Linked DNA regions of Homo sapiens. The protein of the gene in region 2 interacts with the protein of the main gene of each other region in a pairwise test. Each region holds a gene or a part of one and is shown on either strand. Other genes may lie near its edges.

The links.
Region 1: the proteins of IGSF1 (region 2) and RANBP10 interact in a two-hybrid assay, tested with the Homo sapiens proteins (one study listed by BioGRID and IntAct).

Annotation. Positions count from the first base shown.
Region 1 is NC_000016.10:67,737,003-67,740,817, forward strand, and holds part of RANBP10 (ran-binding protein 10), read right to left. Parts: intron 1,034-3,815; coding exon 1,011-1,033; intron 1-1,010. UniProt on the Homo sapiens protein: May act as an adapter protein to couple membrane receptors to intracellular signaling pathways.
Region 2 is NC_000023.11:131,272,737-131,276,202, forward strand, and holds the end of IGSF1 (immunoglobulin superfamily member 1 isoform 1 precursor), read right to left. Parts: coding exon 3,225-3,466; intron 3,030-3,224; coding exon 2,742-3,029; intron 2,551-2,741; coding exon 2,263-2,550; intron 2,142-2,262; coding exon 1,863-2,141; intron 1,471-1,862; coding exon 1,347-1,470; intron 1,196-1,346; coding exon 1,060-1,195; 3' UTR 770-1,059; downstream 1-769. UniProt on the Homo sapiens protein: Seems to be a coreceptor in inhibin signaling, but seems not to be a high-affinity inhibin receptor. Antagonizes activin A signaling in the presence or absence of inhibin B.

The DNA.
Region 1 (3,815 bases), on a different chromosome or scaffold from region 2:
CAGGCTCCCAGCATCCTGGGTGGAGGCCCTGCATGTGATTAGGCCTGTGATGACTCATAATAGAGACTGGAGTACAGGTGCGGGATGGCTGGAGGTGAGGATATGCCCTGAACTAAGCAAGCAGAAAACTCCATCCTTTTCTGTTTTTTTTTTTTTTTGAACTAAGCAAGCAGAAAACTCCATCCTTTTCTTTTTTTTTTTTTTTTTTTTTTTTTTGAGACGGAGGCTCGCTCTGTCGCCCAGGCTGAAGTGCAGTGGTGCGATCTCAGCTCACTGCAAACTCTGCCTCCCGGGTTCAGGCCATTCTCCTGCCTCAGCCTCCCGAGGAGCTGGGACTACAGGCGCCTGCAACCAGGCCCGGCTAACTTTTTTTGTATTTTTAGTAGAGACAGGGTTTCACCCTGTTAGCCAGGACGATCTTGATCTCCTGACCTCGTGATTTGCCCACCTCGGCCTCCCAAAGTGCTGGGATTACAGGTGTGAGCCACCGCACCCGGCCAGAAAACTCCATCCTTTTCTAAGAAGAGAAGACCCCACAAAGCTCACCTCTCTGGCTTGGGGGTGCCCTAGATAGTAGCAGATGAGTTCCCCTAGGGCACTAACTTTCCTCAGGGATCTCTGATGGGTATGTACAAGGACTAGGTTCCCTCACAGTTCAGGAACAATTCCCTACACTCTGCACCCCAGCTGACACACAGCTGGTTTAGACCAGTTGAGCCATGGAGCTATCTTCATTCCACCACCCTACCCGCCCCAGCCCCACAGCTGCCTTTGGAAGTGCCACAAATTACTGTCACCTGCTAAGAGTCGTAGGAAGACCAGACCTTACTGCTGGAGAGAGAGGAAGGCCAGCAAGTGCCCCTCCTGGTACCCTCAAGCTGACAGCATGGCACACATCCCTGGTTGGGGAAAGAACCAGACTCCACACCCTGCACTTGCAGGTACCACCGTGCCCCATCCCAGTCAGCCCCCAGAAACCCAGGAGGGGAAGACTCAATAGTAGTACTCACCGGGAGGTCTGTGAAGGCTATACCTGTGGGGGGAAAGGAACAGTCATCAGGGCCAGCCCCTGGGGCTACTCTGCCTCTGCACCCCATGGTGGAGCCAGTGCTAGGGCCGGGTAGTTGTTTTTTTTGGTTTGTTGTTGTTGTTTTGAGACAGAGTCTCCCTCCGTAGCCCAGGCTGGAGTGCAGTGGTACGATCTTGGCTCACTGCAACCTCTGCCTCCTGGTTCAAGCAATTCTCTGGCCTCAGCCTCCCCAGTAGCTGAGATTACAGGTGCCCACCACCACGCCTGGCTAATTTTTGTATTTTTAGTAGAGACAGGGTTTCACCATGTTGGCCAGGCTGGTCTTGAACCCCTGACCTCAAGTGATCTGCCCGCCTCAGCCTCCCAAAGTGCTAGGATTACAGGCATGAGCTACTGTGTCCAGCTGGGAAGGTTTTTTTGTTTTTGTTTTTGTTTTTTGAGATGCAGTCTCACTCTGTCGCCCAGGCTGGAGTGCAGTGGTGCGATCTCGGCTCACTGCAAGCTCTGCCTCCCCGGTTCACGCCATTCTCCTACCTCAGCCTCCCGAGTAGCTGGGAATACAGGCGCCCACCACCACGCCAGGCCAATTTTTTCTATTTTTAGTAGAGACGGGGTTTCACCATGTTAGCCAGGATGGTCTCGATCTCCTGACCTTGTGGTCTGCCCACCTCAGCTTCCCAAAGTGCTGGGATTACAGGCGTGAGCCACTGAGCCCGGCCCCGGGCTAGGTAGTTTTAATTAGACCATGGCCTTCTCTTCACTGGCGGCCTGGCCAGAAGTGAAATCAGATGCTTAGGCAGGTGCATAGCTCCTCCACCCGCAAAGAAAGCCTGCTAAGGGGAACTAAATCCAAAAGATCTATCCCCTGCGGCCCTTCAGACCTGATACTTCTCTTGATTTAACACATATTTATGGAAACTTATTGTGCATGCCAGATCCTTTTTTGGAGAAGGGCCTCACTCTGTCGCCCAGGCTGGAGTGCAGTAGCACAATCTTGGCTCACTTCAACCTCTGCTTCCCGAGTTCAAGCAATTCTCCTGCCTCAGCCTCCCGAGTAGCTGGGACTACAGGCACATACCACCATGCCCGGCTAATATATATTTTTGTATTTTTGGTAGAGACAGGGTTTCACCATGTTGGCCAGGCTGGTCTTGAACTCCTGACCTCAAGTGATCTGCCCACCTCGGCCTCCCAAAGTGCTGGGATTACAGGTGTGAGCTACCGCACCTCGCCCCTTTTCCATCCATTACTTCATCTGATCCTCACACCAACTCTGGGAAGCAGGCTTATTGCATTTTACAAAGGAGAAAAATAAGCCTCAGAGGTTCGACAATTTGCCAGTAGTCATAAAGCTAGCAAAGGTGGTGGGGCTGGATTTGTTCCTAGTCCAATGCTTCAATGTCATCCCCAAGCTGACAGAGAAGTGGAAACAGGGAGGGTGGCAGCTGCCTATCTCCAGTCCATACGCAGTCAGAGTCCTCAGAGGTTCCAAGCTGGCAAAGTTCAGGTTAACAATGGCCTGTGTGGAAGGATCTCTTGAGAACAGAAGTTCAAGACCAGCATGGGCAACATAGCGAGGCTCCGTCTCTACAAAATATATAAAATTAGCTGTGGTCCCAGCGACTTGGGAGGCTGAGGCAGGAGGACCACTTGAGCCCTGCAGGTTGAGGCTGCAGTGAGCTAGTATGATTGTGCCACTGGGTTCCAGCTTGGGTGCCAGAGCAAGACCCTGTCCCAAAAAAACAAAAACAAAAAACAGCCTGTCAAAAACCCTCCTGCCAAGAGAAGTGGCTGCATTTCTAGGGACCTCAGCTCTGAATTGGAAGTGAGGGTAGAGGGGAGTGGGACCACAACTATATAAGCAGGCTACCAGAGCACCCATGTTCTTCAAACTGAGAAATGACAAATGACTCAGGACCAGTGGAGGCTCTCCAAGGACTCAAAGCCCTCTCATTTTTTAGATAAAGTCTTTTTTTTTTTTGAGACGGAGTCTAGTTCTGTCGCCCAGGCTGGAGTGCAGTGGCGTGATCTCGGCTCACTGCAAGCTCCGCCTCCCAGGTTCACACTTTTTTTTTTTTTTTTTTCCCTGAGACGGAGTCTTGCTCTGTCCCCTAGGCTGGAATGCAGTGGTGTGATCTCAGCTCACTGCAAGCTCCGCCTCCCGGGTTCACGCCATTCTCCCGCCTCAGCCTCCCAAGTAGCTGGGACTACAAGTGCCCGCCATCATGCCCAGCTAATTTTTTTTTGTATTTTTAGTGGAGACGGGGTTTCACCGTGTTAGCCAGATGGTCTCGATCTCCTGACCTCATGATCTGCCTGTCTCAGCCTCCCAAAGTGCTGGGATTACAGTCGTGAGCCATCATGCCCGGCAGATAAAGTCTTATATCTCCCAGAAGCTCCTGAGCTTTTGGCCTTTGAGGTTTTCAAACTGCTGATTCCTTAGAGATCTCCAGTCTGCTATCCAACCCCTGCCCAGAAAAGAAACTGAAGCCCTGCAAAATAGAACAGGGTCTATTCTATTTTGGGTCTGACAACAGGTCTCCCAGAAACCTGGCCGGAATCATGCCAGCCAGCACATACCACATGCTTCCTCTATGCTGGGCACTGGACTGAGTGTCTTATAAGGCACTATTCAATCCTCAGAACAACCTTGGAAGATGTATACTACCTCTGACACTAGTTCACATATGAAAAAACCAAGATGCAGAGAGATGGTTTATATTCTTTGTTCGGCTATTTTGTTTGCTTCTCACTGAGGGACGCTCATAAGCCGCATGGTCTGCCT
Region 2 (3,466 bases):
TTTTCTGAGGTCTTTAACAAGCTTTGAGGAACTAGGTAAGCCACCCACCCCATTCCAAACGGCCTAATGGCCTAATGTGTACTGAATTCCCACTCATGGGGCAAGTGGCCTTCTAATCCAGGGGGAAAGATCAGTGGCTGAGAATGGGAGCTAGCCCCCCGCCCCACCATTTCCCCATTTGGAATCCTGGGAGGCGACACTGGCAGGTCCCCTGTTCCAAACCATCCACCTCATCTGCTTACTGGCTTCTTGAGATCCCACCATTACACGCACATTCCTTTGGGAAAATGGAACTCTCTTTAGAGAGGGACAAAGTATCAGATTTGATTAATTGTTCTTACTTAAGAGTGAATTCATTTACACCCTGTGATTGCTAGGTAAGGGTCACAAAGCGCGCTTTTCCAGTTTCAAAGTGCTGCTGAGGGCCAATCCCACTGTTTGAAAGTGGATGTACTATGGACCCAAACGTAACACAATGAAATGCATGTAATGTCTGTGTTTTCCCTCCTCAGGCTCAACTTGGAGAGAGTGTTGCCATTCATTCATTCATCTATCCCATGGAAGGGCAAAAGAATACTCTGGTCAGTGACTATGTGTCAAACCAAATTGGGAAGTAGCTATTTTGGAGCCCCCTCCCCACGCCCATCCTTGAACAACTTTCTCTTTTCTCGTACCCCTGCACTCTCTTATTCTGCCATCGAGATCAGCTCCAATACATCATTTCTAAATTGTTAGTGGAAAACAGACCAATAGAAGACCACAGCCATAGTTTTTGAAGTTAAATAGTGAATACTCTTTTTATTCAGAAGAATGCATTTTTAATAGAATTTCATGCGCCAGTAAATCAGTACAGTGAGGAGTTACAGGGGTGGGGAACCTCTCTTCAGGAAACATCTCACCCTGGCAGAGCTCTCAACTCCCAGAATCCCCTTTACCCAGCTCAGGTGATTAGAGACCAAGGAACAGCAGATGGGGCTGACTTGCAGGGTAACTGGTTGGATTTATAGGTCTCTGAGAGCAAGAGAGAGGAGAGGAAAGCTCTTGTAAAGGAGGAGATTATTATATTGGAACGGGCAGTTCCACAGAGATTCTCTGAGAGGTTGATGAAGGAGAATTGGCAGGGGTGCCTGGTTCTCCTTCTTGGTTACACTCTTCAAGGGCAATGGTCTGGTCTCTTCCGTCTGTCTCTGAGCCTCTATGTAAAGAAAAAGACATGAGTAAGGGAGGACCCAGAAACTGAAAACAGATTGCACGGTGGGGCTCAGATACTAGGGGAGCATTTGTATGATTGTTTTTCTAGCACCACCTGGTTCACAGAAGGGGGCCATAATGAGGCATTTATTTACCTGGTTCGCAGTCGAGGCCACTTCTTCCACTCTATGGCTAGCACTACCCCCAAGGCTACAACAACCACCACGATTAGGCTACTTCGGACAATGTTCCCTACAGTGCACTCCTGAGCAACAGGCCCTGTGGTGATGAAAGAGGAGAAACCGAGGCCATGGAGATTAGCGTGTGTATGTTCCCCTTGATCTGGTATTGCCCCACACTCTGGCCTTCTTTAGGGTTCACGTGGGAGCCATCTGTTCAGACTACAGAGGGGGTGGGCAGTGGCAGAGTTTATGCTGAAGCAGAAGCAGCCCTCCTTTCCTTGGGGAAAAGAGGCCTGAAAAGAAACCCACTCACTATCTTCAAATATATTTAAGGTCCCACCTCCTCATCATCCTTAGGAGAAAGATGACACACTTCAGGTCCCTGGCTCCAAAGCTCCTCCATTCTCCTGATTTGGGATGTCTCCATGGGGACTGTCCCTGGGATCCCAGGTGTGTCACACCAGGACCATGGAGAGATTATTCTCTTACCTGCTGCCCCCACCAGCTCCAGGGGATCACTAGGCTCTGACCAGATATCAGGGTAGGCCTGGAGGCGGTAGCTGCAGCTGTAGTTTCCAATGCCTTTTCCTTCTACGTTGTTGATGACAAAGTCTCCATCCTCTGAAAACTGCTGAGGTGCTTCTTCTCCATCATGTTCTAGGACAAATTCAACACCTGGCAGGGGTCCTCGGCACTGAAGGGTGATGTCCTTCCCTAACTTGAACATGGTGCTGGGCCAGGCTGACAGAGAGGGTTTAGGGGGCTTATCTGCAACCAACAAGGACACAGAGTTAAAAGAAATGATCCTGAACTTAGCCTTTTACCCCCTTATTGCTTACTGCTAAAAACTACAAAATCGTGACTTGTACTGAAGTCTCCAGGACCTTACCAGTCACCCAGATCTCCAGGGAGTCACTGTGATTTGAAGCTGCAAAGGGAGTAGAGTCCAAATAATAAACACAGCTATAGATCCCAGAGTCTTCACCTCTCACTGCTGGCATCCAGAAGTCAGCCCTGTACCCACTTGGCCTCTGTTGCTCTAAAGGCTCCTGAGCCCCCTCCTTCAACAGGACAAATGTTGAGTCTGGCAGTTCCCCTTGACACTGAAGAGTCATATTTTCGCCAGGGGCCACCATGGGACCAGGCTGGGCTAATAGGCTGGGTTTGGGGAGTAAGCCTGGAAGAAATGAACTCCTGGTCAAAGAGAAGAGGTCACTTTCCAGTGCATCACCCCTGGGGTCTCTGCTCAATAAAGAGGAAAGGCAATTGGTTGCCTCTCCTCGAGCTCTCTGAAAACTATCTCCCATGAACTAGTCTATTCCCTCCTTTCTACACTTCCATGCCCACTCGACAGCCTCTTCCCCTTACCTGTGACTAGGAGTTCCAGGGTGTTGCTAGGTTGTATCTTGATAGAACTGGTCCAGTCAGGGTGGTAGCAGCAGCTGTAACGCCCCATGCTAGTACCAGATATATTGGTGATGGGGAATGCCCCGTCATTACTGGTGGATCCCCAGAGCTGCATTGAAGTGGCTTCTCCTTCTTTGTGCAGAATGTATCCTACTCCATGGACCGGCCCTCGGCACCAGAGAGTAACATTCTGCCCCATGGGAACCACAGAACTGGGCTCAGCAAACAACCATGGCTTAGGGAATGTGTCTAGAAAGAGACCAAGGTTGTAAAGTGGTGACTATAGAAACTTATGAGTTCCTGCTTAAATTAACACTCTATCTTTCTCCTCTTGGGCACGGTAGTTCCCCTCCGTGGCCTAGCCTAGCCTTCCAGGAGGAATTACTCTCCCTAACCCCTTCTCCAATGATCTCCATCCCAGTCCCATGTCCGGTCGGTCCTTACCAGTCACCCAGATCATAAGGGGCATACTGAGATATGACCCCCTGTTTGACATGGTTGTCTCATAGTAGATACAGCTATAGTTCCCAGAGTCCTCTGCTCCAACAGTGTGGAGAAGGAAGTCAGCTGAGTTCCCTGAGACACTCCGAAACTGTAAGGGAACATGGGCTCCCTCCTGCAAGAGGGCGAACCTCATGCCCTGGAAAGTCCCTTGGCAGCGCAGGATCACACTCTTCCCAGGAAAC